Linked DNA regions of Homo sapiens. The protein of the gene in region 1 purifies or fractionates together with the protein of each later gene. This does not show direct contact. Each region holds a gene or a part of one and is shown on either strand. Other genes may lie near its edges. The genes, in order: PABPN1L, RBM45 and MKRN2.

Evidence for each region.
Region 2: the proteins of PABPN1L (region 1) and RBM45 purify together in Homo sapiens (affinity purification with mass spectrometry; one large-scale study listed by BioGRID and IntAct). This does not show direct contact.
Region 3: the proteins of PABPN1L (region 1) and MKRN2 purify together in Homo sapiens (affinity purification with mass spectrometry; one large-scale study listed by BioGRID and IntAct). This does not show direct contact.

The regions. Positions count from the first base shown.
Region 1 is NC_000016.10:88,864,505-88,868,253, reverse strand, and holds the start of PABPN1L (embryonic polyadenylate-binding protein 2), read left to right. Parts: upstream 1-1,593; 5' UTR 1,594-1,647; coding exon 1,648-1,902; intron 1,903-2,312; coding exon 2,313-2,448; intron 2,449-2,623; coding exon 2,624-2,691; intron 2,692-3,125; coding exon 3,126-3,232; intron 3,233-3,313; coding exon 3,314-3,401; intron 3,402-3,749. UniProt on the Homo sapiens protein: Binds the poly(A) tail of mRNA.
Region 2 is NC_000002.12:178,115,334-178,118,982, reverse strand, and holds part of RBM45 (RNA-binding protein 45), read right to left. Parts: intron 2,722-3,649; coding exon 2,599-2,721; intron 929-2,598; coding exon 802-928; intron 1-801. UniProt on the Homo sapiens protein: RNA-binding protein with binding specificity for poly(C). May play an important role in neural development.
Region 3 is NC_000003.12:12,577,561-12,581,209, reverse strand, and holds part of MKRN2 (E3 ubiquitin-protein ligase makorin-2), read right to left. Parts: intron 1-3,649. UniProt on the Homo sapiens protein: E3 ubiquitin ligase catalyzing the covalent attachment of ubiquitin moieties onto substrate proteins.

The DNA.
Region 1 (3,749 bases):
TGCACCCTTAACCTTGGCAAGATACACCTCTAAACTGATTGATTGAGACCCATCTCAGACACCTTCTGGCTTTTACAGAGGTGAGAACAGACTGGGTGCAGGAGCCTGGGTTCCCAGGCTGTGGCAGCCTCCATGTCCACCTGCTCCCCGAGCCCCCAGCCCAAGATGGAGGAAGGGCCGCCCTGCGTGGGTGGTGCATGGTGCAGCAGTGCAGCTCCAGCCTAGGCCACGCCCTGTCTCTCTCTCCTCCCCCAGTCCCAAATTCCCAGGAATCCCAGCCCCACTGGCTAAACACCGGGGTGCAGTCACAGAGAGGATGGCCTCGGCCTGGGGGTAGGAGCTGTGCAGGGGGCCCCGTCTCCCACCACCAATGGCAGGGGTAAGAGCCATGCATGACCCCCTGGCCCCGAGTCCTTCACAGAGTGGGTGGGAGACGGCAGCACTGGAGATGAAGGCCAGAGCAGACTCCAGCAGCCGCGGTGGCAGGTGCAGAGGGAGGCGCAAGGGCGGACACGGGTCACCTCCTGCTGCAACCCTGCATGGGTGAAGCCAGGTGCAGACACCACCGGATGCCCACTGAATTCCGCCACAGTAACTCACGCCGTCACTCCCCACGGAGACCCCGCCCCACAATAACTCACGCCGTCACTCCCCACGGAGCCCCCGCCCCACAGCAGAATAATTCTGGCCTCATGGAAGTGGCTCCCACCTAAAAGATGACCCAGACCAGGTGCGGTGCTCACGCCTGTAATCCCAGCACTTCGGGAGGCCGAGTCGGGCGGATCACCTGAGGTCAGGAGTTCGAGACCAGCCTGGGCAACATGGTGAAACCCTGTCTCTACTAAAAAGACAAAAAAAATTAGCTGGGCATGGTGGCAGGTGCCTGTAATCCCAGCTACTCAGGAGGCTGAGGCAGGAGAATCACCCGAACCTGGGAGGCAAAGGTTGCCGTGAGCCGAGATCGCGCCACCGCACTCCAGACTTGGCAACAAAGCAAGACTCCTGCCTAAAAAAAAAAGAAAAAAAAAAAAAAGGCCCAGAATAAGGGTTAGGGAGGCAAGGGTCCCTGGGGACTCCATGGGGGTCAGGATGCAGAGACAGCTGTTGCTGCCCCTCCTCTGGGCCCAGGACCCCGCCCCAACCTGCCTCGGCCCTCTCATCCCATGCACCTGCTCTCGGTCTCTGCTCAGGCCCTGCCTCTCCTGGTCGGAAGCCACCTCTCCAGCCTGCTTGGTCCCTGGTACTAGAAGAAACCACTCCCGTGTTCCCACTTAGATCGAGTGTTCATGCAGTGTGGCGTTCGTGCCGTGTGGATGCTGCTGAGGTGTGAACCCTGTCACAGACCAAGGCTCCAGTGAGCCACAGCGTGGCCAGGCGGAAGCAGAAGAGACCGGTGACCCCCACTCAACTCAGCCTCTCCTTCCTCCAGGGAGAGTGTCCTGGAGGTACCTGTCCGAGTGACAGGGAAGGGGCGGGGCCGGGAGCCAAGGCTGGAAGCTCAGCCCCACTCAGCCTTTGCAAATGCTCTAGTGGGAGCAGCTGGCCTCAGGGGAGGGCTTAAAACTCCAGGAGAGCCTGGGCAGGTGCGGACGCGAGGGGAGTGGAGGGGAGGCCTCGCCTGGCCCACCTTCCTCCTGCCCCTCTACCATGTGGCCCTTCCCGAGCCGCTCTCTCTTCCCACCCCCGACTCAGGCCTGGCTCCAGACGGTCTCCTCAGACCCTGAGGCCCAGGGCTGGGGGGCCTGGAACGAGACCAAGGAGATTCTGGGGCCAGAGGGTGGGGAAGGGAAGGAGGAGAAAGAGGAGGAAGAGGATGCAGAGGAAGACCAGGATGGGGATGCAGGCTTTCTGCTGTCTCTGCTGGAGCAAGAGAACCTGGCTGAGTGCCCATTGCCTGACCAGGTAACAGCTGTGTGGAGGCCCTGGGGATCTCAGGGGACCTGGGGCACAGGGGCTGGTGGAGACACGGGGTCTGGGTGACGGATGGCTGCAGCTGACTTAGGAGGGGAGAGGGCCATTGCCCACCTGCCTGGACGAAGGTGGCAAGGAGACCCCCCGCCCCCAGCCACACAGACTGCAGGGTCAAGGTGGCCTCTCTCGCCTGGGGAAGGGCCCTTGAGGTGCGGTTTCGGGGGCTTCTCTGCAGGGGCGAGTTCATCCCCAGCCAGCTGCCCCAGGAAGGAGTGTCCCTGTCCAGAGAAGGGCTGCCCCTTGGGGCTGTGACCCTCTGCTGGAGCTGGCAGGCCACACACCCACCTTCCTTGAGCAGAGCCTGCAGGCTGCCTGCCCGGCTCAGGGCCGTGTGTCGGCAGGAGCTGGAGGCCATCAAGATGAAGGTGTGTGCCATGGAGCAGGCCGAGGGGACGCCACGGCCTCCAGGAGTGCAGCAACAGGCCGAGGAAGAGGAGGGCACCGCGGCCGGGCAGCTGCTGAGCCCTGAGACCGTGGGTAGGAACCAAGGGCACAGGCCGCCCCCCACTGAGCAAGGGTCCCACAGTTTCCATTAAGGTTGGGCCTGGCAGGCTCCAAGGTGTCACCTCCCCTATAAGCCTGGGCGACCTTCCCCGTGAGAGGAGTGAGGAAGGAACCAAGGGCCTGCGGGCCTGAGCTGTGTTCTCCGCAGGCTGCCCCCTCTCTGGGACCCCCGAGGAGAAGGTGGAGGCTGACCACAGATCCGTCTACGTGGGCAACGTGAGTGGTGGGCGGGGTGAAGGGGCAGGCAGCGAATGGGGCCCCATCTCTACCAGAGGGTCTGGCGCCCGGCCATGGGCCAGGCAGCCTTGCTGGGAAGGGGGTCTGACCCTGGGGGCAGCCCCGTCACCTTGAGGAAACACTGGCCTGGGCACATATTCCAGTTTTTCAACATGAGCTGGAATTCGGGGTTGCACATGAAATCTCCACTTTTGAGAAGCTTTTTAAAAGGCTCCAGCTCTCCAGAAGGAAGCGCTCCATACGAGATATCCTTTCCTCTCTTCCCTCCAACCCCAGCGGGGGTGTGGGGTGGAGGCCTGGGGCCATCCCCGCCACGGGGCCCAGCCTTGGGGTTTCTTTCCTCACCTCTAACAAGAAGGCCCCGAGTCAGGGCCAGGCGTCTCCCTCACATGCTGGTCTGGGCCTGGGTGCAGGTGGACTACGGGGGCTCCGCCGAGGAGCTGGAGGCCCACTTCAGCCGCTGTGGGGAGGTCCACCGAGTCACGATCCTGTGTGACAAGTTCTCTGGACACCCCAAGGGGTCAGTGTGGGGCCTGGTGGGGGCACTGGCCATGCGGACAGGGCCCAGCCTCACCCCTCCCCTCCCTGCCCCTCCCCTCAGTTATGCCTACATAGAGTTTGCCACCAAGGGCTCCGTGCAGGCCGCCGTGGAGCTGGACCAGAGCCTCTTCCGGGGCCGGGTCATCAAGGTGCGCCGGTGCTCCCCAGGTCCAGGAACATGAGCGCAGAGGGGCTGGCCCACTGGCCCTGGGACACACAGCAGCCCCAGCTGGCTCCTCTCTGCACAGCGTGTCTCAGGCACGGTGCTTGGCTGGGCCTGGACAGGATGTGGCGGGACCCTCGGACCTGAAGCTGGGTTTGGTCTGCCAGTGGCATGGTGGGGAAGTGTCCCCTCTCGGGCGGGAGCCCCCTCTGCAGGGGTGCTGGCCGTGACCCCCCCCTCTGCAGGGGTGCTGGCCGTGACCCCCCCCTCTGCAGGGGTGCTGGCCGTGACGGGGTGTCATATGACAGCTATGGTAGGCAAAGGCAGGGAACCC
Region 2 (3,649 bases), on another chromosome or scaffold:
TGTATCCCTCTACTTAGCATATTGATCAGTATACTGCAGGTACTCAATTACTGCTAGCTAAATGAGAAATTTAGAAGGATCTAAGAGAAAATCTGGGTATGTACCTTAGGGGTATCTAAGAATTCTACTGATTAACAGTAATTCTTTCCAGTAAGTATATATTTTTATAATGTCCTAAAATCCAGTAATTTAATTACTCTACATATCATTTCTAAAGGTCAATATACCTAACTAGAAGTATACCAACAAAGAATATTCTCTTTGACATCTTTAAAATTCTTATTCTTTATATATACAGCAACATCAGAAGATCACATTCATGTCACTCTAGCTTGAAATTAACCCTATCTATATCAGTTACCTATGTTAGCACATCTTATAAATCTTACCCTTAACCTATAGGTTTATTAGTTATACTTTATAGTCTTTGGGATGTAGATCAAATATAAACAAATATAAAGAATATTTTAAAAACCTTGAAAAGGTAAGTCAAGTTTTTAATACTTAAAATTCTAAAATACACTTAAAAAACCCTAAAAACCTATAAAAATAATACCCAAAGTATGCATTTCACTTACTAAGTTAATGTAGTTGCTCTTATTTCTTCAAGATAGTGCCTCAATGAATGTTTAATCATAACCCCAAAATATTTTTCTTCCTTGGACTGTAAATATTTAAATACCCACTGCTAAAATTACATTAGCAGATACAGTTATTAGCAAAAACTAATATTAAATTCAGCTATTTAGAATAATCAGAATTTTTTACAAAAGTTTTTAACAATGTTAAACACATCCTTACTTCGATCACAGTTTTCTATTGCTTGGGCAGCTTGTGATGGTTTTAAGTATCGTACGTAGCCCAAACCTTTACTTTCTCCAGTCACTTTATTCTTAATAATGCTGCAATACTCGATATCTCCATACACCTAAGAGAGTTAAAAGACATGATTTTAGGGGACTTAAAATTAATTGAACAGAGTATTTCAGAACTAAAAATTTGTTTATATGTGACCCTTGCATGCAAACAAAGAAATAGGCAGTATAAAATATGCAGATATTGCATATTTGTATTTGCAAATATGCTTATTTCATAGATAAGGAAGCTGGGCTTTAGAGAAATCAAAGAGGGACAAAGTCACAGAAGAGTAAGAATTTGTACATGGTCTGGATAGCTCCAAAGTCTTGCTCAACAGTGGTTAAGAGCCAGAGCTCTGGAATTAAACTTTCTAGATTGAAATCCTGAATCAACCACTCATTAATTAGGCAGTTTACTTATTCTCTCTGTGCCTACCTCTTTATTAAAGAGGCTAGCAGTAGTATCTACCTCACAGGGTTGTTTAAGGGTTAACTGAAGTAAAACATGTGAAGTGCTTACATGGGGCTTGGAACATACTCAAAGAACATTAGCTATTATTACTTGTCTGTCTTCTAACAGGAACATAAATGATTGTGTATTCTTTTGAAGGAGTGCTTTTCAAAGGGTATTTCTAAAATATGCTGGTTCACTCAGAAAGTTACTATTCTGAGAAACATGCAGTAGTGTTTACTTTCAATGTTCAAAGAAATATGGAATATAATTGGTATTTATTATTTATTTTATAAATTCTTATGTAATCAATTAGCAACTTAATTACTATACATTAAAGTGTTATATTTGTTCATTCAGGAAAAGAAAAATTTATAAATATTTAAGGTAAAAAACATTTTCCTTACTACTGGAGGATGTATAAAATATACGTTTTTGGTATTTGTTATTTTTGAAGTATTTCATTGAATTCTCAATTGGGGTAGGAGAGAAAGTTTGAAAATTACTTTTTACTGCTTGTTTTCTTTCTTGCTTGTTGCCACCCAATTCATGGGAGGATTAGTAGAAAAAAGATAAAAAACTACAATTCAAAACAATTAAAAAATTGCTTTTTAATAATTTGTGTGAAAGCTCATCACTGCATAAGTTAATGGCTAAAAAGACATAAAATTATCCTCAAATTTCACTTATATAGGTCAGAGCTATATTTACGTTTTCTTCTTTAAATATAATTCCTTCAAAGGCCCAATTTTAGGACAAAAACTCTTCAAAGAATAAGCCTTTCTGTGAATGAGTACCATGTCAACACACCATAGGCCCGTTCTCAATACTAGATAATACAGTTCACACACTCAGGTCTGCCTGATTCGCCTCTACATGCCAGGCAATAGAGGGGAGTGATAAAAGCGTGCTTTGAAATTTTAAAGACCAAGAGCAGGCTCCAGACTCCGACAGCCTGGGTTTAAATCATAGCTCTACCACCTACTAGTTGTGTGACTTTACTTAAAAGTTTCTGAGCTTTATGCTTCATTTCTGCGAATCTCTACTTTCACAATAAAGTAGGGAGAGACTACCATTACTATTTTCCAGCTTTTATATATTCTTTAATTTTAAAAACTAATTTATGCTAGGTTTAATATTTAAAGAGTAGATTGAAATTGATGAAAGCAGTTATGTAATTCCCCAAGACTACTCTATTGACCTTATTCCAACAACATTTCAGATTTAGTACCCATACAACCTATGCAGGACTATGAGTTATCACATATGCTAGCTGATTAGAATAAATACCTTAAATTTTTCCCGCAGATCTTCTTCTGTGTAGGACTTTGGTATCATAACAAAGATTCTTGTAAGTTCTTCATCTTCAACATCTCGGTGACTTCCAGATGATCGGGACTGAGCAATGAAAACCTAAGAAACAAACAAAACTCCCAAAATAAAATAATGTCAACTATTTTCCCATTTCTTAAATTTTTTCAAAAGCAATTATTCTTGCAATGACTTTTTTTTAATCTTTGAGACAGGGTCTCAAAGAAAAAAAAAAGCAGGCTGCAGTGCAGTGGTGTGATCATGGCTCACGGCAGTCTCAACATTCTAGGCTCAAGTGATCCTCCCACCTCAGCCTCCCAAGTAGCTGGGACCACAGGCACACACCACCACACCCAGCTAATTTTTTAATATTTGTAGAGACAAGGTCTTGCTATGTTGTCCAGGATGGTCATGAATTCCTGGGCTCAAGTGATCCTCCCACTTTGACCTTCCAAAGTGCTGGGATTACAGGTGTGAGCCACTGTGCTGGGCCTGCAATGACTTTTTTTTATGAGATAATACCAATCTCTGCATTGTGTTTTTCCCAAATGTATTTCTACTTTTGCATTTATTTTTAGCCAGAGTAATTTGAAGAAACGTAATACAATTAATTAAAACACCATAAACAAGGGCACTTGCATTGTTTGTTTCTTTTTCCTTTAAAGGGGTCTCTATATCTTGGTCTCTGATCCACTGCTGGTAAAGGGGGCTCTGTATCATTAAAGCATGAGAAAACTGGAACTTATGAAATTCCACAGTAGGAAGCAGCAACCAAGAAAACCACAGTGTTAGAGACATATCCCTTTATAGTCTACTTCTAGTTATTCCTTCAATAAATCTATACTATATGTCAAGCACCATATGAGTACAACTATTGAGTAACATGGAAATGGCCCACTAGAGTCTTGTGGCTGATATCAGTAATAAATGGTAAATAGGGAAATACAAATAGGGAAGCTTTAAGTATATGCAAAGACACTAGAGAAAAAAAAAAGAACCTCAGGTAAGATGAAATTGGAAGTGCCATCAG
Region 3 (3,649 bases), on another chromosome or scaffold:
AATGCATAAAACATGGGTCTACAGCATACAGTGACCAAACAGTTCAAAATGTTTTCCCTCTCTCTTAATTCTACCATTCTCCCCACAGACCTCTATGTTAAGAACCCTGCCCAAGGAAACTCAATCAAATGAATTCCCATTTTGCTCAAATGAACTCTGGTTTATCCAATCATAAAGGATCCCAAACTGAAGTTAAAAAAAAAAAGATACCCAAGAATCCAGAGGGCCATCTCGGAGTACAGAGGAAGGGGAAAGTCACAGAAATAAAGCCAAACAACAGAAAGGGCACGCTGCTGTCAGGGGCAGCTGGGGTGTGTGACAGCGGGAGACAAGAACAGGGAAAGGAGGCTCCTGAATCCAGTGGTTTTCCGTCTTGTCAGATGGGATGGCCGCAGGCCGGTGGTGAAGTTCTCTGAGGACGGCTTCATAGCAGCATAAAGAAAAGCCCTCTGGCCGGGTGTGGTGGCTCACACCTGTAATTCCAGCATTTTGGGAGGCCAAGGTGGGTGGATCACTTGAGGTCAGGAGTTTGAGACCAGCCTGGCCAACACAGCGAAACCCCATCTCTACTAAAAATACACAAATGAGCTGGGTGTGGTGGCTGGCACCTGTAATCCCAGCTACTCGGGAGGCTGAGGCTGAGGCAGGAGAATTGCTTGAACCCAGGAGGTGGAGGCTGCAGTGAGCCAAGATTGTGCCACTGCACTCCAGCCTGGGAGACAGAGTGAGACTTCGTCTCACTGGGGGTGGTGGCGGGGGGGTAGGGTGGGGGGAGAGAGAACAAGCTCCCTGGCCAGCTGATCTGATTTGAGCACAGGTGGCTGGAGAGCAGGTGTGTGGACGACACATCCTCCAGGCCCCTGCTTGCCTGGAGTTCTGAGCGGACTTCAAATGACCGTGAGCAGTTTGCTCTCACCAGAGCCTGCTGGACAACTCCAGAGCATCCTAGCACACTGGCTATGAACTCGATCAGGTCAAACACATTATATACTGGTCCCCCACTCTCACAAGAATATTACTCTTTTTCCTCCCCCAGGCTTATCTGGTCACCAAGGCCAAAAGCCTCCAGTTCACTCTGACTCACTCTGTGTCCTCGGCTCTCACACCCAACTGTGTTCATTCTGTTTACAAATCACTTCCCAATCTCCCCTTCCTTTGGGTTCCCACACTTGTGGAAGCCTCTGGGGCCTGCCTGCCAGGGCCACTTCCTCACTGGCCTCCCTCCCACTCCCACCAGTTTCCACCTTCAGAGCAGCACGGAGGAGCTTCCCAACCTTTTTTTTTTCTTTAAAGAGATGAGGTCTCCCTATGTCTCCCCTGGACTTAAGCAATCTGCCCTCCTCAGCCTCCCAAAGTGCTGGGATTACAGGCATAAGCCACTGCGCCTGGCCCCAACCTGTTCTTAAAGACCATGGTCACACTGGGATTCAAGTGTCCCTTAGATTCCAGTCTGTAGGTCCCACCACATCCTTCTACACACCTGTTTCAATGCCAGGAGCCACTCCCAGTGTCCCCCAGACACAAAACCTACACCCTTCTGTGCCCATGTCCTTCCATCACTTCCCCCTACAGACAGGTGCTTCCTGCTTCATGGTTCAGGCTCCCATGCTGCTTCCCCTGGCAGCCCCCGGTGGATCCAAGTGCTTTCTCTGTTGTGATAGATGGTCCCTCATGAAGAACTGGTCACCAGCAAACCTGTATCATAATTGCCCTTTTGCAGTTTCCCATGAAGTTGTCTTACTTGGCGGGGCACAGTGGCTCACACCTATAATCCTAGCACTTTGGGAAGCTGAGGTGGGTAGATCATCTGAGGCCAGGAGTTCAAGACCAGCCTGGCCAACATGGCGAAACCCCATCCCTACTAAAAAAATACAAAAATTAGCTGGGTGTCGTGGCGCACACCTGTAATCCCAGCTACTCGGGAGGCTGAGGCAGAAGAATCACTTGAACCCTGGAGGCGGAGGTTGCAGTGAGCTGAAATCATGCCACTGCCAGCCTGGGTGACAGAGCGAGACTCGAAAGAAAAAAGAAATTGTCTTACTAATCTCTACATCCCCCAGTGGTGCTTAGCTAGAAGGTACCTGACCCATAGTGAGTACTCAGTAAATGTTTGTGGATTGCAAAAAACACAGTCATTAAAGGAAAGCAAAGCAAGGAAAGATCCAAATAGCAATAACAATCTCCAGACTGCTTTTCAGCAGAGCCCCTTTCTACAGGCTGGGACCCTTTTCTACAGGCTGGGGCCCTTTTCTACAAGCTGGGACCCCTCTGCTTGCCACGCCTTGCCCTCTTGTGGACACACAGGAAGATTGTATGAGGAAAAAATGGTAAAAAAAAAAAAAAAAAAAAAATCAAGCTTTAGTAAACTAATATGCAACATAAAGGAACCATTAAAAAAGGTAATGCATAGTTTCACTTTTAGTATGACAAGTAAACGCCTGCCATACCCAACCCTCCTGCAGATAAGTCTTAACACAAATATTTCAAGAAGACCTGAAGGCACCAGAGAATGAACAAACGCAGTTAGATTCTTTGGAGGAGTAAACACAAAGAAGAATAGCAATGGCAAAGGCTAAGTTACCTTTTTTAAAAAAGGTAGCTTTTGTGGCTCACATCTGTAATCCCAGCATTTTGGGAGGCCGAGGCAGGTGGATTGCCTGAGCTCAGGAGTTCAAGACCAGCCTGGGAAACACAGTGAAACCCTGTCTCTACTAAAATACAAAAATTAGCCAGGCGTGGCGGCATGCGCCTGTAGTCCCACCTTCTTGGGAGGCTGAGGCAGAAGTGCTTGAACCTGGAAGGCGGAGGTGGCAGTGAGCTGAGACTGTGCCACTGCACTCCAGCCTGGGCTACAAAGCAAGACTCCATCTCCAAAAAAAAAAAAAAAAAAAAAAAAAGAAGTAGCTCTTATCCTGGAGCAGGCCAAAATCATAACCACATGGGGTGGCTAAAACTCCAAGGGGAAATCCAATCTTTCTGGCCTGAAGAACTAAAAGACAAGAGTTCAAGGAAATCACAGCCATTGGAAAGTGAGGAAGCAATCCCACAAAGTAAGGGGCCTGTGAAAAAGTGCTCAAAGGCTGTGTATAAACTCTGCCCAAATCTGACTAACTCCCAAACCACACAGGAATGCGACAAAGTCAGCTACGAATGCAAAACCAGAACTGAGATCTGAACTGCTACCTGGGTTTGAGTTCAAACAATTTACCTGCCTGTTAAAAACAGCAACACTTGGCCAGGCGCAGTGGCTCATGCCTGTAATCCCAGCACTTTGGGAGGCCGAGGTGGGCGGATCACCTGAGGTCAGGAGTTTGAGACCAGCCAGGCTAACATGGTGAAACCCCGTTTCTACTAAAAATACAAAAAATTGGCCAGGTGCAGTGGTGCATGCCTGTAATCCCTGCTACTCGGGAGGCTGAGGCAGGAGAATCGCTTGAACCCGAGAGGCAGAGGTTGCAGTGAGCCGAGATTGTGCCACTGCACTCCAGCCTGGGCAACAAGAGTGAAACTCCGTCTCAAAAAAAAAAAAATCATCACTTTACAGATAAACCATAACAGAATCCTAAGTCTCTCTACAATGTAATATTTACAATGTCAAGGATAAAATCTAAAATTACTAGACATACGAAGAATCAGGAAAATGTGATCC